4 linked regions of the Homo sapiens genome follow. The protein of the gene in region 3 interacts with the protein of the main gene of each other region in a pairwise test. Each region holds a gene or a part of one and is shown on either strand. Other genes may lie near its edges.

What was found.
Region 1: the proteins of POU2AF1 (region 3) and PITX2 interact in binary tests that used the Homo sapiens proteins (3 or more experiments, as listed by UniProt).
Region 2: the proteins of POU2AF1 (region 3) and TFG interact in binary tests that used the Homo sapiens proteins (3 or more experiments, as listed by UniProt).
Region 4: the proteins of POU2AF1 (region 3) and DGCR6L interact in binary tests that used the Homo sapiens proteins (3 or more experiments, as listed by UniProt).

Annotation. Positions count from the first base shown.
Region 1 is NC_000004.12:110,614,872-110,620,299, forward strand, and holds the end of PITX2 (pituitary homeobox 2), read right to left. Parts: intron 3,818-5,428; coding exon 3,254-3,817; 3' UTR 2,552-3,253; downstream 1-2,551. UniProt on the Homo sapiens protein: May play a role in myoblast differentiation. When unphosphorylated, associates with an ELAVL1-containing complex, which stabilizes cyclin mRNA and ensuring cell proliferation.
Region 2 is NC_000003.12:100,739,454-100,748,726, reverse strand, and holds part of TFG (protein TFG), read right to left. Parts: intron 3,895-9,273; coding exon 3,796-3,894; intron 579-3,795; coding exon 196-578; 3' UTR 1-195. UniProt on the Homo sapiens protein: Plays a role in the normal dynamic function of the endoplasmic reticulum (ER) and its associated microtubules. Required for secretory cargo traffic from the endoplasmic reticulum to the Golgi apparatus.
Region 3 is NC_000011.10:111,375,515-111,384,939, forward strand, and holds the start of POU2AF1 (POU domain class 2-associating factor 1), read right to left. Parts: upstream 3,762-9,425; 5' UTR 3,664-3,761; coding exon 3,648-3,663; intron 2,339-3,647; exon of another isoform or gene 2,336-2,338; coding exon of another isoform or gene 2,260-2,335; intron 1-2,259. UniProt on the Homo sapiens protein: Transcriptional coactivator that specifically associates with either POU2F1/OCT1 or POU2F2/OCT2. It boosts the POU2F1/OCT1 mediated promoter activity and to a lesser extent, that of POU2F2/OCT2. It recognizes the POU domains of POU2F1/OCT1 and POU2F2/OCT2.
Region 4 is NC_000022.11:20,312,239-20,317,834, reverse strand, and holds the end of DGCR6L (protein DGCR6L), read left to right. Parts: intron 1-1,615; coding exon 1,616-1,716; intron 1,717-2,358; coding exon 2,359-2,499; intron 2,500-3,010; coding exon 3,011-3,160; 3' UTR 3,161-3,597; downstream 3,598-5,596. UniProt on the Homo sapiens protein: May play a role in neural crest cell migration into the third and fourth pharyngeal pouches.

The sequences.
Region 1 (5,428 bases), on a different chromosome or scaffold from region 3:
ATTAGCGGAATGAAGACTTTGGGGCCTTGGAAATTTTTAAAGAGGTTTACTTTTTTTTTTTTTTTTTAATAAAACAAAACCCGAGGATAGGCCAAAGATACCGAGAGAAGAAAAGGTGCCTGCTAGTAACAGGTGAGGGATGGAAGGGGGTGGCGGGGAGAAAGCCCCCAGACGGCGGATCGTCTGCGCGGGGTTCCTGCCCCAGGCCTGGCGAACCTCTGAGCGCTCAAGGAGCACGGCGGCAGTGCGCTGAGGCCAGTGAGGCCTGGGCGCCTCCGGGCCCAACCTCGAGCTCGCCATTTTTGAACCCAAGCGGGGAAGGTTGGTGCTCATGCTATAGATTATGTTAAAGGTTCCTTTAAGCACTTTAATACACAACTAGCTCAGAAATCATTAAGAGACCTAGAGAAGGAGAAAAAATACCCTCACACTCACCGGTAATAAGTGTTGACATGCAGCAAAAATCGGTTGAGTGGAACCGAGGTGGTGGTTGCAGCGACGGCTAGAGGGGGACCCGTGCAGGGGCGGGAGGGGCGAGGGGACTGACTGCACCGGCTCTGGGAGCTAGGTTTCTCTCGCTGGATGGGAAAAGGAGGTGCGGAAAGGGGCAGGCGGCCTGCGGGCTAGCGGGGATGAGAGTTGTGGGGAGAACGGAGGAGAGAGTAAAATTATTCCTTTTGGAAGTCCAAGGGAAGGGAGCTGAGGTGAGAGAAATGGCCTCTCTTAGGTCCCAAGTCTCCGCCCCCAGCCTGCACCACTCAAGTCGGGGAAGTGACAACTCTTCCTAAACCTCGACTTCCATTTTTTGTTTCCTGCAGATTGATTGATGTCCTCGCGTTGTTCTAGTTCAGCAACCAAACTAGGCCGAGGTACACCTCTTTTACCCAGAGCTCCCAAATCACTCACCAACCTGCAGGAGACCTAAATCCTCCGGGCAGGTCTCGTTAGCGCTTCCAGCCCCCATCCCCAAATCCCCTCTTCTAGCTCCTTCCTTCCCCTCCGCCCTTTGGCCCTCCCCGCCCCCTACCAGGCTGAGAGGCGGAGAGGCCGGGACCGCTGGGCCCTGCGGCTCCAGAAGCCAAAGTCCGCCCGTGGGGACCGTTTTCCTCTCCACTGCTCTCAAGTGAACAACATGGTGGGAGGTGACCCTCGTCCAAAGGGCTTTTATCTGCCCCCCACTGCTGCGTGATCCCTCCGCAAGTCGGAGGCAGAGCTTTAAAAAGAAAGAAAGTGTGCGTTGAGCACTGATCTTAAATCGGGGACATTATCTGCGATCTCTTTAAGTGGCAGCAGCAGTTTCTTGCAGAACAAAGACTCAGTGTTCGAGCTCCAAAAGCTTCTAGGTAAAGTTTCATTCAGATGAAAGCAACTAAGGCGAAAAAACAATGATATTGTCGGCTCCAGAAAATCGGCGGTTACTTTTTGCTCTAAGTTCCCCAGCGTGGTGTTTGTTCTCGCCCACTTTGGTTGTGCGGGGGGTTGACAAGCATAACAAAAGATCTCAGCACATCCCTCCCCCCACCTCCACAACGACCCTCCTAGCGCCATGAGGATGAATTCTCTGGGACTAAGTGGTATTTGTTTCTATTTGTTATGAAATCAAATTTCACATTTTTTTAAAGCTGAAAATCGCGGATAAAGAAGGATCGGGTGCTTAAAGTTCATTTAAACACTCACACCGAACTCATTCCCTGTTTAGATGTCAGAGGATGGCAGGGAGGGCCAGGGCTGTAATTCATCTTGATTTGCTTCATTGTCCTGCAGTTTGCAAACTATAATCCTGTATAATTTCAGGAACAAGCAGGTTTAGAATTAATGGGTCAATATTATTTAAAACAAAACACCGGGAGCATGACCTTTGCCTCAACTACATATTGCTCGACAAGACTCAGGAAACTCCACTCTAACCTCTCAACCCCTGAGTTCTTTGAGAAACTGAAGGGCTGTAGTTATTAGAAATCATCTTTGTTTCTTTTAATGTCTCCAAAGGATTTGGAAATAGTAATGCAATATAACATGAAGGATCTCTCTACTTAAGCCTGAAGATAAACGTGGAAGCCTAAATATTTTGAACTGGAGATGTTTCCCTGTAAATTTATTATAGATGTATTCCTCCTGAGAGAAATGCATATAAACTATACATGTATACATGCACAAATATTTCTCCAGAACAATTTGCTAGAGGTGTAGGTTTCCCCGTAAAGGAGTAAACTTGAGAGTCATTTTAAGCTGATGGACTTGCTAAATTTCTTTCTTCTTTTTTCTTTTTCATATTATTTGCTAGCCATAATGGAATCCTCTAGGTTTAAGCCAAAGAAAAATTGGAGAGACAAAATTAGATTTTGTAGCCCTTTTCCCCCCCGGGAATGCCTTTTTTTTTCTTTTTAGTTTCTGATGAATGGCTATCATTTATTTCTACCAAATTTAAATAAGGACTGCTGCCTTGTATGTTTAACTAGGCAGGCAGAGGGAACTGGTTTGTTTAGGAAGCAGTGACTGAGATGTCCTGGCCAAGTTAGTGACAGAGGAGGGGAGAAAGAATCCAGACCAATTTGTATGCAGTATATTTTACTCCCATGAAATAAAACACATTTGTTTCATATTTGCTGAAAAGTAAAACAATAATATTGTACGAAATGTTATACACAGGGTAGGTTGTACATAGCAGTTTCAGAAACATCATTGCATCCACCAGAGAAACTATTCTAAAACTGATATTCACACATTTTTTATAATAATAATAATATGTTAGAAACATACAGTGTGGCATTTAGTATATACACTCCCTTGCTCGCAAGCGAAAAATCCTAATCGCTTCTGTATAACATGCTTTATTTTAAAGCCTAACCTTTAAAAACACTGTTGTGATATTACTAACAACTGCTTTTATAAAATTAATTTGACATTTCGATATATATACATCCTTTCAGTCATTTAAATGTTAACAATGCTAAACTTAAAAAATAACAAGCTTATAGTAATGTTAAAATGTCATATCCAGTCAAACATTTGTTTGTGTATGTGTCCTTGCAACTGTTAGAAATACTTGTAGTGAAAGATGTCAGACACTGAGGACATCCCTTTGAAATCAAAGGAGCTCTCTCTTTGATTCAGTGGTTTCCTTTTCTCTATATAGCTTCTCTTTCTCTCCCTTTCTTTAGTGCCCACGACCTTCTAGCATAATTCCCAGTCTTTCAAGGGCGGAGTTGCCCCATCCGGCAAGGTCCTAGGATCCCGGCGCTGTGGGTGCGGCTCACACGGGCCGGTCCACTGCATACTGGCAAGCACTCAGGTTGGAGGCCGGGTTCTGCACGCTGGCGTAGCCGAAGCTGGAGTGCTGCTTTGCTTTCAGTCTCAGGCTGGCCAGGCTCGAGTTACACGTGTCCCTATAAACATACGGAGGAGTCGGCGGCGCGTAAGGACAGGCAGGCGTCGGCACCGCGGAATTCAGCGACGGGCTACTCAGGTTGTTCAAGTTATTCAGGCTGTTGAGACTGGAGCCCGGGACGCCTGTCACTGCTGAGGGCACCATGCTGGACGACATGCTCATGGACGAGATAGAGTTGGGTGGGGAAAACATGCTCTGTGATGACAGGGGGTTGACGTTCATAGAGTTGAAGAAGGGGAAGCTCTTGGTGGATAGGGAGGCGGATGTAAGGCCCTTGGCGGCCCAGTTGTTGTAGGAATAGCCTGGGTACATGTCGTCGTAGGGCTGCATGAGCCCATTGAACTGCGGCCCGAAGCCATTCTTGCATAGCTCGGCCTGCTGGTTGCGCTCCCTCTTTCTCCATTTGGCCCGACGATTCTTGAACCAAACCTGGGGGCGGTTGGGGCAAGGGAGCAAACAGATGCCACAGTGCAGATTACTAAAACTTCCATCGGAGGCCAACCCCCGCCTTCCCCCGACACACACGCTAGCGCACTCACACACCCTGGCCTCGCTTCACTGCACCGCCCTGCACACCAAGATACCAGGGCCAGCTTTCAGTTACTGGCCCGGGTCTCCACCAAGCGCAGGAGACCTGGTCTGCTCTGGCCTGCGAGCTGGGACTCGGAGCTACGCCACAAACCTCAGCCGAACGCATGGAGACCTGCGGACGGTTTGATCACTCAGCCAGGCGTTTCTCCAGGTCCAAAAACACTTAATGTAAAACAAACGCGGGGCAGCAGGCTTTTCCAACCCTTCCCGGGGCACCTTGCAAACTTGCTTCCATTCCAAAGCCACAGACCCACGGATGAGGAGAAGGGGCTGGAAGGGCACTAGAGGATCGCTCTTTCTCCCACGCAATTCCTCCCTTCCTTCCCTGACCTCCACTGTCGTCCCCCACCCCCTGGTACGTGCTCCCTTAACAGGGACTAGGCCGCCAACACTCTTTCTCGCCTAGCAAAACAACCAAATAAAGAGCAAAAGACCACCTCTTCGTCAGCTCGTTAACTCCAGGAGCTTGGCATATTAAACTCCGGGAACCCGGAAAGGGTAGTTTTGGAGATTCCCCCTTCTTTCGCTCTGCCTCTTCTTTACCCTAAGCCCACCACAGGCCTGTCCGCGCGCCAGGCCCAGCCGGGTCGTTTGGCTTTGCAGGCGGCCACCCAGGCCGGCCGGCTTCCACCCGTGTCCGGTGGCCCAGCCGCAACCCCGATCCCAATCCACATCGGGCCTCCCTGTCGCCCCAGACGGCGGCTTTTGTGTATTGGAGAGAGGCCTGGCCTGAGATATCCGAGCTGACACCAGTGATGTTTCACATTACACATCTCCGCCGGGCCCAGCCGTGTAATCCGCTTTTTCTCTTTTTCCTTTCATTCTTGATTTCCTTTTTATCCCCCTTCCTCTTTGCACCCGACTGCTATAAAAAGCACGCCTCACTCCCACTTGGCTCGACAAGCAGCCGCCCTGGAAGGAGAGGCAGCTGCAAGGAGAGCCCAGCGCCGCGGCTACAAAGCACTAGGGTGGAGCTGCGGAATAGCGGGCGGGGTGGGAGGGCGTTTTCGAAGGATCCCAGAAAACCCATAGACTCTGTCTTTAATTACTTGCCATTTCTACCCTAGGCCATCTAAACTTTGCTCAGGCGAGAAGAGTACGTGAGAGGCCCGTTCCCTTGATGTGCAAGAGAGCTAATGAAAGACTGACCTTGCTCAAAACCACGCCGCCCAGGACCCAGCTCTGGCTCTGGACAGTTAAACTAAAACCATTTTCAACTTCTTCCCGGCCTTTTATCCACCAGCATAGCCTCATGCCTTGCACAAATGCCACCCAGAGAGTGTCTTCATTCCCTCTGATTTGGGAGAGCATTTTGGTCTTTATTCTTTTTATCGTTGTTTTCTTCTTTTTGTTTGCTCTGCTCTAACCGGGGGCTTTATTTTTTCTACCCAGAGCACTTAATTTTTTTTTTTTAACAGCAAAGCCTCTGGATGCCGCTTGATTTGCTTG
Region 2 (9,273 bases), on a different chromosome or scaffold from region 3:
AGCAGGGAGGAAAAAACTTTCATTTTGGTCTTTGTGTTCCAGCAAATTATACTTTCAATTAACACCAACAATGATATCATAAAAAATGCTCTGCTTTTAAATTTCTGAACTTCTTCAATACAAATTAAAATAGTACTGGAGTCTTTTGGGAGGCCAATAGCTAGCAGCTACATTAATTGGTGTAGAGGAGCCTCCTTATCGATAACCAGGTCCAGGTTGGGTATAGCCCTGACCAAAGGGAGGACGGTTACGCGCATAAGGATTAGGCCCACTTGGAGGAGGGGTCATGGTACTTCCAGGAAGTGAAGTAAAACCTGGTCTTGGTTGATAGGCCCCAGGTTGGCTTGGAGCCATTCCAGGTTGAGAGGCAGGAGCCACAGTATAATTAGTAGGCTGAGAAGTTTGGGCAGTGTAAGTTTGTGCAGGATAATTGCTCGCCTGGTACTGCTGTGGCGGCTGAGCAGGCAGTTGTTGAGGCTGACCAGAAAAGGCAGGAGCTGGTGCCTGGGAAGTTGGTTGCTGGCCATATCCCTGGAACTGCTGAGGTTGTTGAGGTCCAGTCTGCTGACTATAGCTTGCTGAAAAGGCAAAATAAATAACATGTATCTTATCTTTTAGTAAAACTACTTTTCCAAAGAATTAGTCTTACTGTTAGGTGGACCAAAAATGGTGAGAAATTTAATAAATATGTATGTAACAAGCAGAGTGGTAGATTCCATCACATAATATTTCAAGACCAAGTAGTTATCAAAGAGGCATTCTCTACAATTTTTTAAACTCTCTAAGACATAATCCCTGAGAGCAAATTCCTGACATAGCATAATTCCTAGAACAGATGCTCAAATGATAAATGAAAGAATTATACTTTCTAGGAAGACCAAAAATGGGAAAGCTAAATAGTCATTAACCAGGTTTTCAGGGGAGACCTACTTAACAGTATCAAATAAAAACACATTGCGGAGAATGAACATTTTTATATGAAATAATACTATAAATACATCTTATTGTACTAATCAGGTGCTTTAAATTTTGCAAATAAATAAAAAGTACCATTTTCACAATCTTTAAAATCATTCCTTTTAGATTTGGTATCTGATGTTTTTTGCCTTTACAACTCAAAATTTTTACTTAGCAGTACAGCATAACACATAAAAAGCATACCATATTGCCCCATAAAAAGCAACATCTATATTCATTATTTACTAGGATGTAATTTTTTTTACAACGAAAGTCTGCTTCACTGAAAACTTTTATCTCTACCATGAAACACACCTGCAGCTACTTGCAATGAAACCTCTCCATTGACTGGAATCCTGTCAGCATTAAATACCAGATACATAAGAAAATTATTAAAATATGTACAACCCTGCATTAAAAAAAAAAAGGATTGAATGAATTTGAGTATATTCTGAACTCACCTTGAACCTGGGTTCAAAATTTACTCATGAAAGAAACCTTTATGACATAGTCCATGAACAAAACTGGAAAAGGTCAGAGGGAAACTGGCAAACCAACAGTGTCAAAGATGGTCCAATGTTACCACCACCACCTCTTAGTCTCCAAGCAGAGTATTTAGTTGACTATTTCCATATCTCTCAATCAAATTCAAGTTAATAGACTAGTAGGATCAGAAATACAAAGATAATAATTTGAAAAGACTAAATTTTACTCAGAGTGAAGACCCTGACTAAATTTATTAAGAGCAAGCTTAGTTCTTAATAAGTAAATCAAGTATCTTTAACGCATTAACTCATGGTAGCATCTAAATACTGACCTGAAACCAACTCATAAAAAATTCTGAATGTCATACAAGTTCTCCTATCCTCTACATAAAACTTAAATTTTCACTATAAGGTTTTGAAGAAATAGATGGATTCAGCTTTATACTGAAAATGCCTATTCATTTTAACACTGCGAGAAAAAAGAAAAGTGCCTTTTCATCCTGGCACCTGAAATCTGAATTGTTTTTTTTTAACTGGGCCTGGAAGTAATCTGATCCTTAATTATTGCTTAGGGGAGGGAATAACCCTACAGGCTGAAGATTTCATTAGCAGCCCACCAGTCTCTTGAACATAATGTGGCAATGCTTCTATCATGTGTGTGTGTGTATATATATAGTCTCCCTTCCGTCCCTCCAAAATAATAAATAACTTTAGGTGAAGGACATCAGAAATAGCAAAAAAATGGAAATATGGAAATTATGTGAGTTTTTTTTTTAATACATAGGACATCTAGCCTTTTATGGAGTAAGTCTGCCAACTCCAGTCTAGGTTGTAGAATGCAGAATGATACAGGGAAATACTGAACTGATCCAGCTCCCTCCACTGAATGGCTGTATGTGCTTTGACAAGTCACAATCTCTTTCAAAACTAGTTGCCTCATTTATAAAATGCAAACGCCTGAGTCCCACACCCAATCAAATGAAATTCAAAATCTCTGGGAATGGGGCCCCACACATAGCCTCCCCCAGGTGATTCTAAAGCATAGTGAGGACCGAAATCCCGAGATTAAATGATGACTAAATCTCTTCAGCTCTGCTATTCTTTCTATAAATAACATAGTTTGTAACACTGATTTTTTTAAAAGAACTGCATCCTAAAAATAACCTTCCTCCTGATATAATCCAAACTTAAGTTCTATGTATTTTATACAATTAAAAACAAGTAGCTACAAGTTAAGTCACTCTACAGCAAATACAATCTAAATAAAATTGTGTCAAAATATTTCAAATTTTAATTAATGACAGAATGTTATGGTCTAGGTCAGGAGTCAGCAAACTTTTCTGTAAAGAGCCAGATAGTAAATAGTTTAGGCTTTGTGGGCCACATGGTCTTCTGTTGCAACTACTCAACTCTGCCATTCTAGTGCCCAAGTAGCAGTAGAGAATATAAAAGTAGAAGTGTGTTCCAATAAAACTTTATTCAAAAAAACAGGCAATAGTCCAGATTTGGCCTGTGGGCTATACTTTACTGACTCCTGCTCTAGCTGATACCACAAAACTCTATAAAATAGAATTTAGACTAGATTCAACCTGCATAAATTATTTCTAATTACAGTTGAAATTCTGATACTTCAATCTTTGGCTGTAAAACAAGAGTTGGACACAAACTCTCTGACATAACTGTAAAAAATACTGGAATTATAGCCAAAGTTACATTAATAATATTTATCATACTTAAATACATATAATCTTCAGTGGACAGATGGTAAAATAGAAACAAAATACTCAGGATGCTTATTTAAAACAACTAAACAATGTTCTTAGTTGCCTGAATTACATTTTATACGATTTTATTTTTATGGCCTATTTCTGGTATTCCTACATACTTGCAAGAGATTTTAAAATCTAAGTAGCTTAATTGAGCTCTTATTTAAATAACATCACCTTTCCATGTATAGTAAACTGTTCATATTTCTACAGGTACTAAGAGTACACTGGAATTACGTGTTACATATAAATGGAGAGGTGGAGGGAAGGGGGAAAACTTGCACTAAGTCGCCTAAGAGATAAACTGATAATGTTAGTAAGACAGCTTTGTATTAAAAACTTTTTATACTACAAGTTACTGCAGAATCATCTACTGTAAGTTTTATCTCCCCACCAGAAAACTGAAATGTTGATTTACAATATTAATGTAAAATATTTAAAAATAAATAAAACAAATGTTGTTTCCCCTAATAAAAACTTAATACCTATTATATCAATGTACTACAAATCAAGGAATTAAGAACTTAAAGTTTAATGAGTATAGAAACAAAAAACCATGAGCCAACTCCCTTTCAACACCTGCTCACCTGAATACTGAATACCATACTGTTGAGGCTGCTGAGGTGGAGCCTGCGGCTGCTGTGCACCATAGCCGGCCTGTTGCTGGTACTGTTGGTACATCTGACCTGAAAACACACACACACACACACAAGGAAAAAAGGCATGTTTAATGTGGCAAAGAGAAATATTTTTAAGATACATATACATTCCCTCTCCATCCAAACAGAGTAACAATATACAAGAAAGTATTTGTTCAACTTTAAATGTCTATGAAGAAGAGAATGAACCATTTTAGAAGTGTGATTCCTCTGCTGTGGATTAACTGCAGAGAACTAACTGGCAATAAACATTAAGTGCAACACCAGTGGCTACCATTTCATAAAGTCTAGAAAAACAAATGTTTTCCAACCCAGCTGCCAACAGATAAGTAACGCTAATGTTCATTAAAAGCCAAGTGAGTTGAAAATCAGTAAATAAAAATGAGAAAAGGGACAAATACCATTTATATCATCTAAGTCCTTCCTAAAGCACTGTATTTGCCCTCTAAAGGTATGGGCCTCTATTACCATATGAACAAACTCTTTGGTAGCAAGGAACTATATGACATCTTTTGTTCCAGAGCTGAAAGACACTTTTGGAATTTGTCAAGTTTGATTTTCTATGAATATCCAACATCTTTTGCCAATAACGTGGACTCTAATAAAGTCTAAATGGTTCTTCATTGCACTATTTAATAATGGCAGACCTTTTTAACAACGGTGATGTGTTCTTGAACATGGGAGTCCTATTTGTCCTATTTGGGGTCAACAACCACTGTTCCTATGAAGAAACCCTTTAGACACTTATTACCTATGATTTTTCTTTTTACTTTTTATTTTTCTGTCCTCACAATCTGTTCCCATACCTGTGATTTTCAAGCAAAGATTTATTGGTTTATGTCTTTATTATCTCTACTTCTCAATTATTTCACAATGGTTGATTTAGCTAGATGTAATATCTAGTAGCAATAACCTTGCATTTTAATATCTATCTGGTATTTAAATCTTTAAAATAATCACATGTTGGCTGATTCTTTGAAAAATATTCAAACTACCTATTAATCAAAAGACTATGAGCAAACCAGATACTTACTGCTGAAGTGAGAAAAAAAAAAAGACATTATATCAACTCCCACTCAAATCGAGCTGCAGTAGGCAGCTAGGACTCACAGGCTTAGAAAATGAGACGGAGCCCACTCTATTATACCAGCTGCTCAGCCCTATACGTGTCTAAGTTTTTAGTGCTGGGTAGCACTAAAGGAGATACAACTATGTTTATATCCAGCTTATTTCCTAGCAAATGTTTCTTTATAATAAAAAAAGAATACAAATAAAAATCAGCTCAACTATTTTAAGCTATTTATCCTATTCCCAAATATGACAAGAAAAAAAAAGAAACGCTTACAAAAGTTTCTTAAATGCTTTCTTAATGATTTAGACTAATAGCATAAAAGGTAGCACAGAAATTAACCAAATTTAGATGCCACCTTAATCCTGGATTGTACTTCATAACTAACTTTCGGAATAGAAGTGACCAGAATCTAAAATAAAAAGGTAAGTAGGTACAGAAATATAATCAAGGGGAATAAATACGTATAGCACATAACAATGAACTCTTAATTCTTGAAAATTAGAAGGCTTAACTCCACAATAAAAAAATAAGCAAACAGGCAATAAACACATTTAAAAAAATTCAACCATATTAGTATTCCTTATCTCAGATACAGAAAAATTAAGCAACTTACCTGCAGTCAATAGCTAAGAACAGAACCATGAAGAGCTAAGAACCATCACTGGAACTCAGGCATAACTCCAAAGCTTTAGTTTATAAAGTCATTTTGCATATATTATCCCATGAACAAAACAATATAAATATTAACTTGGGCATCATCAAAAAAGGCTGAGATTAAGGTTCCACGTAGTAGTAGACTGTGGTCATCAATGAGTAAGGAACTCCTGGTCAAAACCACAGTTATTCCCCTCAATAAAAATTTATAGGGTACAACTCTTCATAAAGCTTTTTTTTTTTGCATGTTTTCATAAACTGCTATAAATTGATTTTGAAAAACATCCCTAGAGTTAAAAATTTCAGAGGTTTATTATATCTCTACACAAGATTCCTTTTACACAGCAGATCCTCAAATAACATCTTTTGTTCGACATTGTTTCGTTAAAACACTGAGAAGGAAAAAAAAATTATTCCCAGTTGGGGTTACTGTTCTGTGTAGAGTCTGCACATTCTCCCCAAGTCTGTGTGGGTTTTCTCTGGGCACTTCAATTTCCTCCCACATCCCAAAGATGTGTATGTTAGGTTACTTAGCATGTCTAAATGATCTCAGTCTGAACGACTATGGGTGTGTGTGTGGTTGCAATGCACCCTGCAATGGAATAGCAACCTGTCAGGGTTGGTCCCCACTTTGCTACTGAGCTGATGGGATAGATTTCAGCCACCCACAACCCTGAATTGGAATAACTGCATAAATCATTATCTTATTTGTTTTTATTAATCTTTCTTAAATGTATCTATAACTCACATTTGTTTTTAGTCTTTATCTAGAAGTCTGGGGGTATTTTTGTGATCAGAGATATGCTGTAGGAACTCAACTTACTCATATCAATTAGCCTATGGTAGAACTGATTTCCTCATACGTCATCTCACTTAAAGTTACAATTTCCAAGAACCTATCAACAATGTTAAGTGAGGATTTACGGTACTTACTTTAAACCCACCTCATTCAAGTCCAAATGGGACTGTCACAGTATTCTGAAAATTAATTAAGAAGTCTGTTTAATTGTTTAAAAAAAGAAAAAGGATGAACTTCTTCACATACTTGAGAGATCTATAGGATATATGAAGAGAGCAAAATGCAGACATTGTTTATAGTAAGCAATGTTTTGAGTAATAAAAAATATGGTCATGCATTGCTTAATGACAAGAGTAGGTTCTGAAAATTGTGTCACTGTATAATCATATAGTATACTTACACAAACCTAGATGTATATAGCCTACTACATAGCTAGGCTATATGGTACATAGCAGTCTACAAACCTGTAGAGCATGTTCCTGTACTGAATACTTAGGCAATTCTAACACATGGTAATTATTTGTGTATCTAAACATATCAAAACATAAAAAAGGTACAGTGAAAATATGGCAAAAAAGATAAAAAATGGTATGCCTGCCTAGGGCACTTACCATGACTGGAGCTTGTAGGATTAAAAGCTGCTCCAAGTGAGGTACTTGTGTTGAGTGAATGTGAAGGCCAAGGACATTACTGTGCACTACTAAAGGTTTACAAACGCTATACACTTAGGCTATACTACATTTATTTTTTAAAATTCCATTTCTTCAATAAATTAACCTTAGCTTACTGTAATGTTTTTACTTTATAAACTTGATTTTTTAACTTTTTTAATACTTTAGCTTAAAGTACATTGTGCTACTATACAAAAATATTTATTCTTTATATCCTTATTCTATAAGCATTTTTCTATTCTTTTAATTTTAAATTTTTACTTTTTTAAACATTTAGAAAAAAATTATGACACAAACATACACATTAGCCTAGGCCTATACAGCATCAGGATCATTGATATCACTATTTTCCACCTCCATATCCTGTCCCACTGGAAGGTCTTCAGGGTCAAGAACATCCATGGAGCTCTCATCTCCTATGATAACAATGCCTTCTTCCGGAATACCTTCTGAAGGACCTATCTGAGCCTGGTTCTACAGCTTTGTTTTTTTTTAAATAAGTAGGAGTACACTCTAATGATTTAAAAATATAGTATAGTAAATTCACAAATGAGTAAGAGAGTCACCTATCATCATTATCAAGTATTAGGTACTACCCATAATTATGTGAGCTACACTTTTATATGACTGGCAGTAAGTCTGTTTACACCAGAATCACCACAAACACGTAAGTAATGCCTTGTGCTACATTATGATGGCTACACATCACTAGGCAATAGAAATTTTTCACCTCCATTATAATCTTATGAGACCACCATCATATATGCAGTCCACTGTTGACTGAAATGTTATACAGTGCATGACTATATATAAGCTATGTTTTATGTATATTTTCAAAAAGAATCAATGACAGAATAAAGTAAAAAGTAATAAAAAAAATTAAGGGGAAAAGAGAACAGGATGAAGCAAAGAGTAATGGTAAGACTTCTGGGAATTATTTATTACACAGAGTAGCCAACCTCTATCATGACCCTCAACGGCTTCTGCACATGTATAGCATTTATGACAATGGGTTGGTATCGTTTATATTCTTAGAAATTAGAAAGATTTAACTCCACAATACAAAAATGACCAAATAAGCAACAAGCACATGAGTATCTGCTCCCTGTTAGTCCCTCACATACTGAATAGGGCTGACCTGTATACCAAGAAAATATTGCAGAAATGACAGTGACATTTCTGAGGACAGGCTATAAAAGGTTATCTTCTACCTCACTCTCTTCTGATTACTCATTCTGGTGAAGCTGTCATGTCATGAGGTCACCCAAGCAGCCCCATGGAGAAGTCCAAATGGTAAAGAACTGAATCCTCCAGCTCTGGTTAAGCTTCAGATGACTATAACCCCAGCAGCCATTTTTAACTGCAACCTCATGAGAGATGCTGAGCCAAAATCACCCAGCTAAACCATTCCGGGATATCTGTCTAAAACTGTATGAGATAATTAACTTTTGTTGTCTAAGTATCTATGTTTTGGGATAATAGTTACACAGTAATAAATAATACACATAGTTTTGATTTTAGAAACATGTAAGGGATTTTAGAAACATGTAAGTTTTTTCTAATGGCTATTAGAAAAAACGACTCAAGACACATTAACAATGCAAAGTGTGAACCTTGTTAGGCCCCTCATTTGAACAAGTCAATTTAACAAACGAATCTTGAAACAATTAGGGAAATTCAAACACAGACTAGCACACGTTGACATTAAGAATCACTGTTGAGGTTGCAGGTGAGCTGTAATCAAGCCAGTACACTCCAACCTGGGCAACAGAGTGACACCCTGTCACAATTAAAAATAAAAAGAATCACTGTTAAGTAACAGCATGGTGGTTATATTAAAAAGAAGATTATCAGTTGGACATATATACTGAAATACCTGAGTATAATAAGCTGTTCATAATTTGATTTAAACTACTCCAGCAAATTAAAAGGGGTGCAGTGGGGAAAAAATGATGAAAAAAGAATGCCAAAATATTGGTAAGTGTTGAAGCCACATGACTACATGAAGAGTTGATTATTCTATGTATGTTTCAATATTTACATAATAAAGGCTACTCAGCTTTTCATTATATTGGCATATGATTTTAAAGATTTTAATTATATGCTTTTTCATTTTTTTAGGCTGTCAAACAGCAATATCTCCCGATCTCTGATGATTTTTAGCGTTCTTCTCCTTACCAGTTACATTTCTGGCAACATCACATAGTCTT
Region 3 (9,425 bases):
GCCTCCCGAGTAGCTGGGACTACAGGGGCCTGCCACCACAACCCCAGCTAATTTTTTTGTATTTTTAGTAGAGACGGGGTTTCACCATGTTAGCCAGGATGGTCTCGATCTCCTGACCTCGTGATCTGCCCGCCTTGGCCTCCCAAAGTGCTGGGATTACAGGCGCCCGCCACCGCACCCGGCCTGATACTGAGTATCTTAAGGAAATGAATGCCTGAAGAACCAAGCAAATCATCTCAGACCAGAGGTTGGCAATGTTTTTCTATTATAAGCCAGAGAGAAAATATTTTAGGCTTTGTATGCTGCACAGTCTCTGTCACAACTACTCAACTCTGCAAAAGCAGCCCTAGACAATATTCAAATGATAGACAGAGCTGTGTTCCAATAAAACTTTATTTACAAATGGAGTGGCAGGCCTGATTTGGCACAGAGGCCATAGTTTGCAGACCACTATTTTAGACCCTTGGAAAATTTTGCAATATCCTATCACCCAAGAATATTTAGACTGTGGCTTTTTAACTATTCTAATCAAAGTGTGGAAAAGAATATATGAATTTAACATAACACTGATCATTCAAGATGGGCCCACAGGTGGTTTCCAGGACGGAAGGTACTAACTCATCCCTACCACTACTTATCAGGAAACTTGCTATCATTTTACCTACATTCTCTACTTTAATTCTCACAAAAACCTTGGGAGGCAGACATTAGAATCCCCACTTCCCAGATAAGGAAATGAATGGAAATTTCCTTCTCACAAAGAAAGAACTAAGTTGCACAGGCAACTTTCAGACCTGTCTCCCTCCAAGGTTCCTGCTATTTCCACTACACTGTTACTAGCTGGGGAGGGATGGTAATTCTTCACATGTGCACCTGACCAGCAGGTCCAAGTCCAGAACCCAGGGAGAGAATCTACAGATGGAGTGACTTCTTCATCCAATTGGCCCATCAAGCAAATCTCAAATCCATTGGTTGGGGCTTGAAGATTTCTACTTCTCTGTGCCAGCAGTTCTGGGCTTTGTCACTTTATGCTCTAATCTTAACCAAAAGCCAGGGTTCACATTTAGTCCACAAACTAGGGTCATGGGCTAGGTAGGGAGGAGGTAACATTCACAAAGTGAATGTTTTCTTAACCCTTTCCAGAACCCCATAGTACAGTCATTTCAGCTCATGCCTCGAGGGTGTTTTCTGAAAAAAGAAAGTGCCCTTTCAGCACTCTTGGTGTCTGATTTCAAACCCTGCCCTTCCATCGGGTGACTCTAAGTGGGCTGACATGCTGCCCTGTTTTTACTGATTTTCCCACACGGTTTAGTCACCCAGGTGCCCTCTATACCACATACTTGGGTTCAGGCTAAGGGGGTGGGTCCAGAGCCCAGGGTCTCTCCTACTTTTCCTTTAAGGCTTAAAGGACAATTCAAGATAATTTTGATTTGTGTTCATCTGAACATGTGGAAACATTCACCCCAGTTATTCCATTGATGAGCTTACAATGTGGTCTCCCTTACAATGGAGTTTTGATCTATCTGACTGGTCTCCAGGGTGTGAGCAGGAAGCATGCCCTCCAGCATCCCCTTTAAAAAATTTGGGGGACAGGTGCAGTGACTCACACCTGTTTGGGAGGTCAAAGCGGGTGGATCACTTGAGTCCAGGAGTTCGAGACCAGGCTGAACAACATAGTAAAACACCATCTCTACTAAAAATACAAAAAAAAAAAAAACAGCTGGGTGTGGTGGCGGGCACCTGTAGTCCCAGCTACTAGGGAGGGTGAGGCGAGAGAATCACTTGAACCCAGGAGGCAGAGGTTGCAGTGAGCCGAGATCGCGCCACTGCACTCCAGCCTGGGCAACAGAGCAACACTCTGTCTCAAAAAACAAACAAACAAACAAAAAAAGTCTGTTCATCTCTTAGAAGGAATTAGAAATGAAAAAATGTACTACAGAACCAAGAGGGGAGAATATGGCAGATGGTGAATGCAGGGAAGCAACTCATATCTCAGAGGCTGATGCAGACAGAGCAATGAACATGACTTCGGTGGCACCTCACTTACTAAGGATAGATCCTCAGTGTGGATATGATTTTTACCCCCACTTAACATACAAAAAACCTAAGGATTGAGAAAAAGGAAAGTGGCTTGCTCATAGAAGGTAGGAGCTGAGGCAAAACTCCTTCCAGGGGCTCACACAAAAATCAAATGATTCAGCCCTGAGTGAAAGGGCACACAGATGCTTAGGGGCCCCCAGTAAAAAGATGAATGCCCACCTGCTCTCATCCACACAGCACTCACAACAGGGTCAGCTGCCATTGTCCCAGAAAGGATAGGCTGCCGCTGCTCCATCGCCTGTTGGGAAGAGTGGCGTGCCAACAATTCTTGAATATTCCTAGTTATCTTGGAAGGAGTCCATAACTCTCAAACCCAAATTAAAGCTCATTTCTCTTTATTTTTTTAAAAAATTGACCTTTTGATATCAAACAATGGTGGGTCTTCACAACCTGAGAAATTTTGAAATCACTCTTCTGTGTTACTGGTTAATCAGCTTAATTCCAGAGAAATTTACATAAGACATAAAGCAAACAATAAATTGGTGATGACAGTGTCACATTTTAATCAATGAAGTTATATTTTCCGAACTTTAGTGGATCCAATCAAGTATCTTTCCATAAAATAAAAACATTCCCTAATATATCTTCTTCTGTAAATCTAGATTCTCTTATATTAAGCTTGCTTGAGGCACAGCATACTAAAATTAATTAAAACGAATTTTAAGGAACCAAGAATCTTTAAGAGAAAGACAGAGCAATTTTTGGTCATTCTTCTTGCTTGAGGAAGTATAGAACTAGCCCCAATAAGGTTCAACTCTCAGAAGCTGATGAGTTGACGCTGTTTACCTCGTGAAAAGAATGTTGTAAATAATCTGTATTATTTCAGTTATTAGTAAGGTAAGTCGCTGTTTGGTCCACATAAAGGAAAATAAAGTTCACAATTGTTTCATCCAACTCCGGGGATAAAAATCAAGGCCAAAGATAAACCCACTGCATCCTTTGCAGTGGGATGGACAAGCCTTGTCACAGAAGGGGAAAAAGAATGACGAAAGGCAAGACAGTGGAGCAAGTGAGGACACGCTTCACCGAGCCAGATCTCCACTCCTCCCAGGGTATCCACAGGGACAAGTCACACCTGGCAGAAAGCTAAGTCACTCAGCTAGAAACAGGCCCAGGGAATTCAACAGAAGGCTGAAGAGCCACTGCTTATGGAAATAAAGCCCCTCCTGTAAAGAACTGCATGGCTTTTCCCTCCCAACCCCAAACCCATCCCACATCTGGCTTTTGTTGTGTGAATCATAAACTGCCCTTTCTTCACCACAGTGATTCATGCACAGAAGCGGAGGTACCCTGAGCCGTCCCACCTTGGAACACTAGTTCGTTCCCCTCCAGCCTGGAAAATCAGCATCACCTCTGACAGGCTGGTTTCTCCACCAGGCTCCATCCCGCCCACCTCCCCCCTCCCTGCTCCGGGGCTTGGAACCCAGACCCCCTCCCCCCGTGGCCCCATCACCTCCACCACCAGCTCCCCAATTCCAGACCAAGCTGTGATCGCCCTGCCCCGCTGGCACTCGCTTGGGTCTGACAGCCACAGCCAAACCACTTACGTTTTTGCCAGAGCATGGCCTGTGACAGGATGTTGCCTTTTCTCTTTGAAGCCGACAGTTTGGCTTCTTTAATGTGAGACCGGGGTGTGTTTTCCTCCAGTGGAGCCACCGCTTGAGCTGAGGCTGTTTCCTGGGCTTTTTAAAGGCCTGGGTTCCCGCTGCGTGGGCCGCGTCATCACATCCTCCCACCTCAGGCACCGGTGCAACGTTTCTGCAGCCAGGCCGCCTGTCACCCCACTGTGCGCGCCCCAGCGGCCCCGGCCCAGAGCGCTCCACACTCGGAGCTAGCCAGCTGGGACAGAGCAACAGCGCAGCGCGGGCAGCCACAGCCTGCACCGGCCCCGCGGGGACCTGCTGTGTGTGGGTGTGAAGGTGGTGTGGGGCAAGCTGTGGGAACCCCGTGTCAAGCCCTCCCCAGGCCAGTGATGAGCCCAAAAGCTCCTCTGGAAAACGTTGATCTTTGCACGGCGCCCATGCAGGCTTCCAGGCCACCAGGGCATGGGCAGGACTCAGCCCGCCATGGGCGCCTGCTCAGCGGGAAATGCGATTCCCAGGGGTCACTGGTTCTCAACTGGGAGGAAACACCTGTCATCTCTTCAAGCCTCAGTAAACAACCTCCTCATTCTTTCAATATTGCTTTTCTGTTTATTCCATTTTGAAACACAGTAGCCCCTCCCCTCGCCCCCAGCCACCCCCAAAATGGCAAGGCTTAATCATGCTGAAATATGGGGGCGCTGGCTCTGATGTCGGCTATGCCCACGGAAAAAGAGGCCAACCCTCAAGGAAGGAAGGAGAACATGCCCGTGCTCTTTGACTGGATCTGGGCTTGTAGGCACAAGATGAACAGAGCCTCTTTGCGAGTGCCCACCCACTGATAACAGGAAGCTTCTTTAAGTAAGTCATGGGCTCACCATCTGGAAGTGTAGATGGTGTTGGCTACCGGTTCCTTCACAGTTTGGAAGCCTTCTGCCACTGCATATCTGAGGTCCACATGCTCAGGCTCCAGGGACTCAGTCAGTTTGGGGTCAAGACCCCTTGGCACACCCCCTAGAGCAGGTGTGGGGCCTTGCTGCTCTGCCATCCATACTGCCTCAGAGCCATCTTGCACCACCTAGACCTGATCATGCTATCCCCTAGCCTACAAAGCATTCACCTTCTCCCTTCAGCCACAGAGCTGGAGGCCTAGAAGGCCTCCCACAATCGAGCCGTTGCCTTCCTTTCCAGCCTCACCACCAACTGCCCTCCTACCACTGGTCCCAGTGCCCTCTAAGCACCACCAAACACCCATGCAATTCCCTGCCTTTGACCTTGCCGTCCTCTCTTGCCGGAAGGACAAACCCCCAGCCCAGAGAATACTTGTTCGTCTTCTCAGATCTTAGAGCACTTTGTTCATTATGTGATGGTGAATTGTCACATGACTCTGACAGTTTCTCAAGGAGGTTTCATCTTTGCCTCTCCAGTGCCCCACACAAGACCTGGAGCATAGTGACCCCCAATAAAAATTCATCTGATAAAGTTATGAATTACTGTCTCTAATCGGTTGCTGATTTGAGGGCAGGTCTTGAGGAGAAATGCTGTCAACATTTTATAAATGATTCACTTAAAAGCCAGAGAAGGCTGTCTCCTGGCTGCCTATAAGCCCTCCCCGCAAAGCCTCTGAAGTTCAGGACAGTGGAGGCCCCCATGCTGTGGTGGCTGGCAGCCCACACCCTGGCCTGGCAGGGGGCAGCATCTCAAGGCCTTGGGCTGCGCCAAGGAGTTTCCATGAGAAACAGAGGCACATCCCTCAGGCCTGCCTCAGTCACAGGAGACGTGGGTTCCCATGAAGGCTCTGACACTCACTCACTGTGTCCCCTTCAACAAGTCACATAACTCTTCTAGCCTCAGTTTCCTCATCTATAAAATGAAGAACCAGTTCTGTGAGTGTCTCACAGGTTCGTAGGAGGATATGTGGCCTCGCTGGTCCTCTCTCCCACGGGTCTGTCTTTTGTCTCTTTTGGTCATGTCTTATTCTCTCCAAGTCCGTGAAATTCAGAACTTTTTCTTATTCATCTCAGTTTCTCCCCACAGGCCTAGCATGATGATTTCCACAAAGTAATAATATAACCACTTACTGTGCAAGAGGCTCCATGTTAAGCCTTAAATACATTACCTAATCTAGTCACCACAACAACGCTGCAAGGAAACGTCTACCTGTATTGTTCAGAGAAACAAACAAATGCTTAGGGAATTTCATCTGTCCAATGTCACCAAGCTATCAGGTTATAGGCTGGTGCCAGACCCAAGTTCATCTGACTAGAGCCAGAGCTCTAAATCATTAAAATAAAAGATATTTATTAAGTTGAAAGCAGTAAATGCCAAGTGTCAGCCATGTTTGTTAGTAGTAATATAGGATCATTATTATTAAAACCTGAAGCAGATCAACAGAAGCTATATCCCCCGGAATAAATTTCTGTCCTCTGGAAAGAGGGAAGGAAAAGGTGAGACCCAGAGCTACTCTGACAAATCAGATCTTGTACAGTGGCAGAAAAACAAAATGTCAGTGGGCAAGCCCACCATCATGGCCAGCGATAAACCCATCACCTCTTATGGCCTCACAGCTCATGAGGCAGATTCCAGCTCATTTCTTCCAGCAAATACCCTGCATATCAGTGACCACATACAGGCAGATGCTTTGGAATCAAGACTTGATCGAAACAGCAAATATTTTCCAGGAAAACATTTTCTGTGACTTAGAATCAAAAGTCAAACTGCATGGCATAGTTCAAAAGAGGCGACTATGTTTATGCAATGTCTCAAGAAGTGGAAGAAAAGAAGAAAAAATCTGTGAACATGGTCCAGATGACTCCAAATACAGGTGTGCTCACATTTTTAAAGAATCTGATATACAAACATCAAAACTTCTAAAATAATTTATTAAAGCGCACTGATTCATATTGTGAAATAAATTTTAGCTTTGCAAAAAGATTCACCATCGACTTCATTTCTTCCATCATTTAATAAATATTTACAGAGTGCTTATTACATGTCATTACCTCTGCCAAGTCTTAATCTTTTCTTTTCATTTAGCCTTTAATCATCTTCATTCTCATCATTTTTGATTTATGAAAAGCCCCTATCTTATTTTGCTCAGTAATTTATTTATTCATTCATCTACTTTCCCCCTCATTTTCCATGTCTATTCTTTTTCCTGTCCCCTCATACCCCCATCACCCACCCACCATTCCAATCAGGGCAACTCTTTTCAGTGGTTGATGCTGAAGCTTTTATTTGTAGACATTTGTGCCTGTTCTTATAAGATCTGTATTGTTTGGCATGTATAGATTTTTAATTTATGTAGGTGATGTTATATTACACATTTCACGCTGTTTCTTATTTTTTAATTCAGCACAGTGTTGTAAGATCTATCCACATTGATGTAGACATTCTGTGCACCACTTTTAACACCTGCAAAGTATTCTATGGTGTGTGAGCGCTGCATTTCACTTAAGCAGATTGTCTCCAACTTCCTCTTCCACAAACAAAGCATTGATGAACATTCTTATATGCATCTTTTTTCAGAGGCATGTGAAAATTTCATTGAGGTTATATGCCCAGAGGTGGAATTACTGGGCCAAAGAATAGGTGTATATTTAATCTGACTGAATACTAATCTGTCCAAGACTTCCACCAGCAGTTCATTTTTCCACCAGCTTCTCATATTTCCACTTTACCACCAAACCTGACATTATCCAAGGTCTAAATGTTGCCAGTGTGGTACATGTAGTGATAGCAACAGTGTAGTGTGTGTGTGTGTGTGTGTGTGTGTGTTTTAGTGTAATAGTGTAGTGATAGTGTAGTGGTTTATTTTACATTATAATACTAATAAATGGAAGCATGTCTTCATATGCATGTTAACCCTATGGAGTTTCTCTTCAAAATACCTCTTCAATCACCTCTTGGCCTTTTGGCTAAGATCAAGTGTAGTATTTGTTCTTGCCAGTTTAAAATGTCTGTTCATTCCTTTGCCAATTTCTGTACCAGGATTGCCCTTTTTCTTGTTGATCAGCAGAAATTCTTTGCACATCTGTGTTCTAGATGTACAATTCTAGATATTTTCAGTTTTACTCAACACAAATTTCTTCACTCTTGTCATCTGCTAACTTTATTCATAGTGTGCTTTTTTTGAATAGAAATACATACTTTAGGTACATGGACCTATTTTATTTTACTGGTCTCGTTGTTCTTGTACCTTAGTTTTTATTGTTATTTATTATAGTACAGCTTAAATTTTTCAGATAAGTCTATCAAGTTCCTCAAAAAATTCCAGCCAGCATGGTGGCTCATGCCTGTAATTCTAGCACTTTGGGAGGCCGAGGCAGATGGATCACCTGAGGTCAGGAGTTTGAGACCAGCCTGGCCAACATGGCGAAACCCTGTCTCCACTAAAAATACAAAAATCAGCTGGGCATGATGGTGGGCACCTGTAATCCCAGCTACATAGAAGGCTGAGGTGGGAGAATAGCTTGAACTCAGGAGATGGAGGTTGCAGTGAGCCGAGATCGCACCACTGCACTCCAGCCTGGGTGACAGAGAGAGACTCCCCAGCACCCCCCCCAAAAAAAACACTGAAATTTTTATTGGTTTTCATTGAATTTGTAGATTACTTCAAGCAAGAGTAATATCATTATAAAATTAATTTGGTCCAGCTGAGCATGGGACAGCTCTCCATCTCTTCAGATCATATTCCATGTTTTTTATTATTACAGTTTTTAAATTTTCTCCGCAGAAGTACAGTATATTCTTAAATAAGCTAATTCTCAATTATGTTATAGTTTCTGTTGATATTGTGAATGGCATCTTGTTTTTTATATAATTTTCTAGTTGGTTAGTGATGCTATAGAAAAATTCTAATATTTGAGAGTTTATCTTATTTCTAGAAACCTTGCTGAACTGTTTTATTTATTCTAATAGTTTGTTGGTTATCATAGTCTTTCTAGGTAGAAGACAATCTCTTCTGAAAGTAACGGCAGTTTTATTTTTTCCCTTCCGATTCTTCCATCTCTTGTTTTTTTCCTTTCCTATGGTGTTGGCCAGTACTATGACAAGTAATAATGCTAATAGTGGTTATTCTTGCCCTGTCCTTGTCTTACAGAAATGACAAATTCCTAAAATTAAAAAAAAAAGATGAAAAATCTTTGAAAGGCCTCATGGACAACAATAGAGATAAGGTAAAACAAACACTTGGATACGTTATAATGAAACTTTAAAACAACTAATACAAACAGGACATTCTAAAAGCTTACTAAGAAAAAGAATATATTTATAGCTAAGGAACAAGAATCAAAATGACAGTATACTTTTCCACAGCAAAACTAGATGCAAGCGGATAATGAAGAAATATTTTTAAAGTATTTAAGAAAATGAACACTGAACCTATAATTTTAAATCTAGCCAAATTGTCATTCAAATATTGTAGCTAATGAAGATGTCTTCAGACCTACAAGACTCCCATTAAAATTGCTCTTAGAGAAAGCATTCAAATGAAAAGAGTGACTCAGGAGGATGTTGCAAGAACTATGAGAGCAAAAGGTAATCAAATACTGGGTAAAGTTTATTATAGGAATTTTCTTAAAGCTGGGAAAAGGAGAAAATTCATCCATAACAACACAAAACAAAATATCTTTAAAATAACATGATTACACAAGTCCAGAGAACACCATTTATATTATATTTAATTTTCCAAAATGTGGCCCTTAAGGAGATCAAAGAGAAATCAAAATGCACTAATGCTTTCGT
Region 4 (5,596 bases), on a different chromosome or scaffold from region 3:
TAGTTTACTAATCCCAAGCGCATGGCTCATTATTCCTTAATGCCCAGACTGTGCCATGTGTGGCCAGTTGGGGGCGCTCCAGGCACCTTTAGATGCCGCCCCATCATTCTGTGAGCACTTTCTTGCTTTCTGGTTCAGGTATGTGTTCAGGCTCATCTTTTCTTGTTTTCTCCGTGTCTCAGTCCTGGAATCGGCCATTTTTCCACAGAGCTATAGTTCCTTATAGCAGGATGGGGAGTTTTAGTAACTGCCTGGGCCCAATGCTGTTTGTGCTTCAGAAGGTTTGGGCCAGGCCCTGGTTCCACCAGCAGCAGGCATGCCTGCATTGACTTTCTGCTTCTCCTGCTGATTTGGCAGGGGCGACTGGCTGCTCCTGCCTCCTTTGTGTTCCCTGGTCATGTCTAAGGCCAGGCCCCTTCTGCCCAGGCAGCCAGCGTGGCTCTCTTCTTGCCTTTTGGTTGTCTATCTAGTGGAATCTGGTAGTGGACCTGGCACTTGTAGCAATGTTTGATCAGTAGAGTGAAGGAGATGACATTTCCCTGCTTCCCTGTGTTATGGAGCTGTCTTGAGGGGGGCTTTTGGTAAATACCATCGTCGAGGTGTGTACAGAATGTGAAGAGACAGGAGATCGGGGAAGGCTGTAGGCACAGCGGGAGCCAGGCTACCTGCAGGGGAGCCTCAGGGGCCCTGGAGTTCCCTGGGGACTGGCCACCAGAGAAGAGCTGCAACATCAGGGCTCTTCCCAGGAACAGAGTGTTGGGTTTCACCTTTTCTTTTGGCCAGGGACCCCTCCCTCCTGGGGAGCTGTAGCCATTTGGCACTTACTGGTCACTGGCGCCAGCTGTGGGGTGCTGCATGTTCTGTTTCATGGTGGTTTATGTCCCATGATCGCTTCCTCTGTACATTCCCTTCAGACCAGACAGTTTGCACACATCTGTGTTTGTGCACAGTTTAGCAAGGACCGTGGAGCTTTACTTGATGGCTGAGGGTGAGCCCCTCAGAGCCACACAGGCTTATGGCACCCCAAGCTCATCCCAAACTTGGGCCTCCCAGGTCTGCCCACCCTTCTCCCTCTGGCGCTGTGCGGGGGCTGGGAGCTGCAAATGAGGGAGGGGCTGTCTACCCTGAAGGGCAGCACTGAGGGTGGAGGGCCCGACCACACCCCTGGTAGGCAGAGGCCCCACGCTCAGGGTCAGCGACCCCGCTCCTCCTGCTCCTTTCCCATGCCTTTGCCTGAGGTGGTCTCTGACACTTGAGTAGATGTCTCATGGCCTGTGGCCATGGGGGCCCTGAAGCCCTCAGACTGCAGCCTCCCTCCCGCCTGCCTCCTCCAGCTGCCCTGGGTCTGGGGCTGCAGCTTTGGCCCCACCTGGCCAGTCTTCCCCACCCCACTCTTTCAGTGCCCCGCACCTTCTGGAGTCCCCTGGAGACTTGCCACCAGATAAGGGCCCGGCCCTGGGTGACAGTGGGGTGGGAGGATGGAGGAGGCTGGCATCCTCCCCACTGCAGACACCCCTTTGGCCTGGCTGCTCTGCTGGGCTGGCAAGGCAGGTGCCCATGGGTGAGGGCTGCTGCCGAGTCCCACCGCCTGCTGACGGGCTCTCATCCCTCCCAGTGCTCAGGCAGGCGCTGCGGCAGAAGCACCAGGAAGCCCAGCAGGCCTGCCGGCCCCACAACCTGCCTGTGGTTCAGGCGGCTCAGCAGCGAGAACTAGAGGTACTGGGGGCGCAGGCAGGGTGGCCGGCCCAGCTCTCCTGTGGGCACCACCTGGCTCTGCTGACTGGGCTGAGCTGAAGGGGTGTGGGGGCTCAGGCATGGGTGGCTGTCCTGGGCCTGAGTGGGACACTGGAGGCCTAGTGAGTCCCACCAGGTGGCTCCTCTTTGCGGATACCAAGTGTGCTGGGGCTGGGTGGAGGTTGAGAACCCACCAGTGCTCCCCTGGATAGCAGCTCCTCGTGGGTTTGGGCCTCCACAGAGCAGGTGGCCTCAGGGGGGTACAAAGGCAATGGTAGGGTGTTGGGGCCAGGAAGGGGCCCATCCTTCTCCCAGGGAGCACAGGGACAACCAGAGACTGGCATGTAACCAACAAGCCGTGGGGCAGGGTGTGCCTGTGGAGATGTGTGTGTGGTCCTAAGGCAGTCCCAAGCCAGGGCATTCGTGGAAGCCCCTTGGGGCCCCCTTCAGGGGTTCACATGGCCGAGGAGAGGCCTGGGTGTGGTGAGGATGCACCGGTGGTGTCAGAGCTGCTGCCACTGGGGACGGCAGCAGGAGCATGTGTTTGAGCTGCCCTCACCTCCCCGCCCCCTGATGGCAGAGCTGCCCTCACCTCTCCCCCTCCGCGCCCTGGCCCCATGGCAGGCCGTGGAACACCGGATCCGTGAGGAGCAGCGGGCGATGGACCAGAAGATCATCCTGGAGCTGGACCGGAAGGTGGCTGACCAGCAGAGCACACTGGAGAAGGCGGGGGTGGCTGGCTTCTACGTGACCACCAACCCACAGGTCAGTGCCTGGGCCTGCTCTGCCCTAGCCCGAGTGCCCCGGGGCCCCATTCCATCTGGGGTTTTACTGCTGGTCCCTGGGGAGCCAGGCTCAGGGTATGGGGGTGAAGTGGAAGGATTGAGGCTCTGGAAAGGATTTCTGTGCCATTCCCAGCACGGAGGCCAGGCCCATTCCCTACAGGAGGGTGAGCCAGCCAGCCATGGGCACTGCCCACCCTCTCCAGGCCTGCTGTGCCACACAGGGCCCTCTTCTGCTCCCCTCCCGCATGCCATTCCGAGTGGCCCTGCTGGGGGCAGAGGCTCAGATTCCGAGTGGCCCTGCTGGGGGCAGAGGCTCAGATTCCGAGTGGCCCTGTTGGGGGCAGAAGCTCAGATTCCACCCTGTCCTGGCAGGCCATGACCAGGCTTCACAGGATGGTCGCCCCCGTGGGCTCACTGCCTGGCACCCTTGGGCCGGGATGAAAGGGGCCTGGGGGTCACTCTGGCCTTCATGGGGCCCCTCTGTATCCCAGGAGCTGATGCTGCAGATGAACCTGCTGGAACTCATCCGAAAGCTGCAGCAGAGGGGCTGCCGGGCAGGGAATGCAGCCCTGGGACTGGGAGGTCCCTGGCAGTCGCCTGCTGCCCAGTGTGACCAGAAAGGCAGCCCTGTCCCACCATAGCCACAGGCAGCAGAAGTCTGGGCAGAGTTCATCTTCTTGACCTTTGGCCACTGCCTTCCCAGCTGCCCGCAGGGGGTTCCCCCTGCTGAGGAGAGACCAGGTGGACCCCAGCTGCCTGTCACCCTTCATCTGGGACTTGCTGTCAAACCCTAGGATAGTCTCATAAAGGGGAGGCTGGGCCAGCCTGCTGCTGTCTGCTTCAGGACCAGGCAGAGAGTGAGGCTGGGGGTTCTCACACCTTACTCCACCGGGCACATCCCAACCTGCACTGGGGCCCACCCGAGCGCTTGTTCTGGTCTCAGCCGCTCCCTTGGCAGCTGCAGCCCCCATGCAGAAGAGGCTCCCAGGCCCAAGCTCTGTGTGACCCAGAGAAATAAAGATGCCTCAGTGTGGCCCAAATGTGGCTTGTGTGATAGCTGCAGGTTCTGCCATAACCGGGGCCCTGGTAGGGCCCCCACCTCTGTTGCAGCAGAGGCCTCTACCTGGGGGCCCCTTCCTGGGCTGTGTGCCCAGCCCACCACCCCTCCCCCTGCCTGGAGACTGGGACCCTCCAGCCTTTCCTGCCCCAGCCCTGGTCCCAGGATGCTGTCACTGCCATCTGTACAGGGGCCCCCATCCAAGCCCCAGGGCATGAGGACCACATCCAGCCTGCTTTGTGGGGCTGGGGGCTGGAGAGCATGGGAGAAGGCCCGGAGTGCAAGTATGCGCCTGCCGCAGCCTGGTCAGTGTCCTGTGGGAACCACTAGGAGGAGCCTGATGCAGGTCACTGGGATAGAGGACTCAGGGTGGCAGGAATGGCCTGAGGAGGAGCCCTGCGGGGAGGCATGCCAGGGCCACCTGGGGAGCTTGGCTTCTGCATCTGCATGAGTCCCCTCCGTGCTGGCCTGGGCCCATGGGCCCTGCTGGGTCCTTGTGGAGTCAGGGTTGGGGGTGTCCAGCACCCTGGGTGGCCAGGTCTGCGCAGGGCCTGGCCTCCAGGAACAGATGATGCTGGAAGCCAGAGTTTGGGATGAGACTTCTCTGACCCTGTCTGAGCCACTCCCTCTTTGTTGCCCAGAGCTGACCCTGTGTGAGGGCAAAGGGCTCTCAGCTGCAGGAACAGTGGTTTATTGACCAGGCAGGCCTCCCCAGCCCGGCCACTGCTCCCCGAGGGGCTCGGGCTATGTGGGCTGGCCTTGGGAGAAGGTGGACAATCCTCTAGGTCCAAGGACATGGGGGTCACAGAGGTGGGGGCCTTGGGCCCACACATCCGAGGAAAGTTCCTAACAGTTACCAGCGGCTATCCCAGGCAGGTATCAGGGTCAGCCCACACCTGAGTGCCCCCACCATTGGCAGGGCTGGGAGGCACCTGACTCCACCTCCAGCAGCTCTGCAAGTGTGGGGTGAAAAAAGGTGAATCTGTGTGAGGATGGGGTTGGCTGCAGCTGTGGTGATGGCCTGGGCGGGGGCGGGGGGGTGCTAGGTGGGGCAATGGAAGAGGTTGCCAGTTCGGAGCCACCTCAAGAGCTCCAGCCACAGCAGCTGCCGCTCCCGACGGGCACCCTTCACGAGGCTGCTGTTCTCCAGGGCGTGGCAGGACACGTATGACAGCACCTACAGCCCTATACTTGTACACAGGGTAGCCAGCCTGGCCTGCATGGGGGCAGATAATGCCATGAGGCCCAGGCCCAGCACCACACTCCATCGCACCAGGGAGGGCCCCATTCACCCAGCGGGAAGCTGATCTGGTCACACATGCCTAGCAGCTGTCCAAAGTACAGTAGGATGCAAGCGCAGCTCCTCCATCCTGTGCAGGTAAAGCCAGGAGCTGAGGGCTAATTCCAGGACACTGTCCCCGGTGCAGGGGTACAGGGCCCCTGTCCCAGCTCTGACCCTGTCCTGCCACCCCAGGTCCCCCATCTACACTCTCCAGACTTTATCCCCTTTGAAGTGGGGTTGGGATATAGGCTCTGTCCGGCCCTCTCCCAGTGAGGCCTCTTCCCAGCAGGACTCTGCTGGGCTGCCCTACTCTTCTCCCTGGGGAGGCCTCAGCCCTTAGCCAACAAGGCCCCCCTCCTGCCTTCCCTACCCTCCTCTCTCCCACCTCTCCTCTACCTCCCTTCTTGGAGGTGCAGCCCTTCTGGGGCTTTGACCCACCCAGCAGCCTGCCCCACAGGGCAGAGAAGCTCCTCAGCTCTCCTGCCATCCCTTCCTCAAGCCCCTCCAGGGTTCTGTGGTATGACTGGTCTCCGGCCCCTGCCCTCGCCCTCTGTGGGCTGCTGCTCTGCCCCATCCCCACAGCTGCTGTGTCCCACACAGCTGCCACCAGCCCCCGAGTCCTCGGAAGGCGGCTGCTCTGAATCGAGATGTGTTGCAAATGTCAAATACACACGGGATTTAGGAGACTTTCTAGAAAAATGCACGATGCCGCATTGCTTTTCTAAAATCAACTTGAAT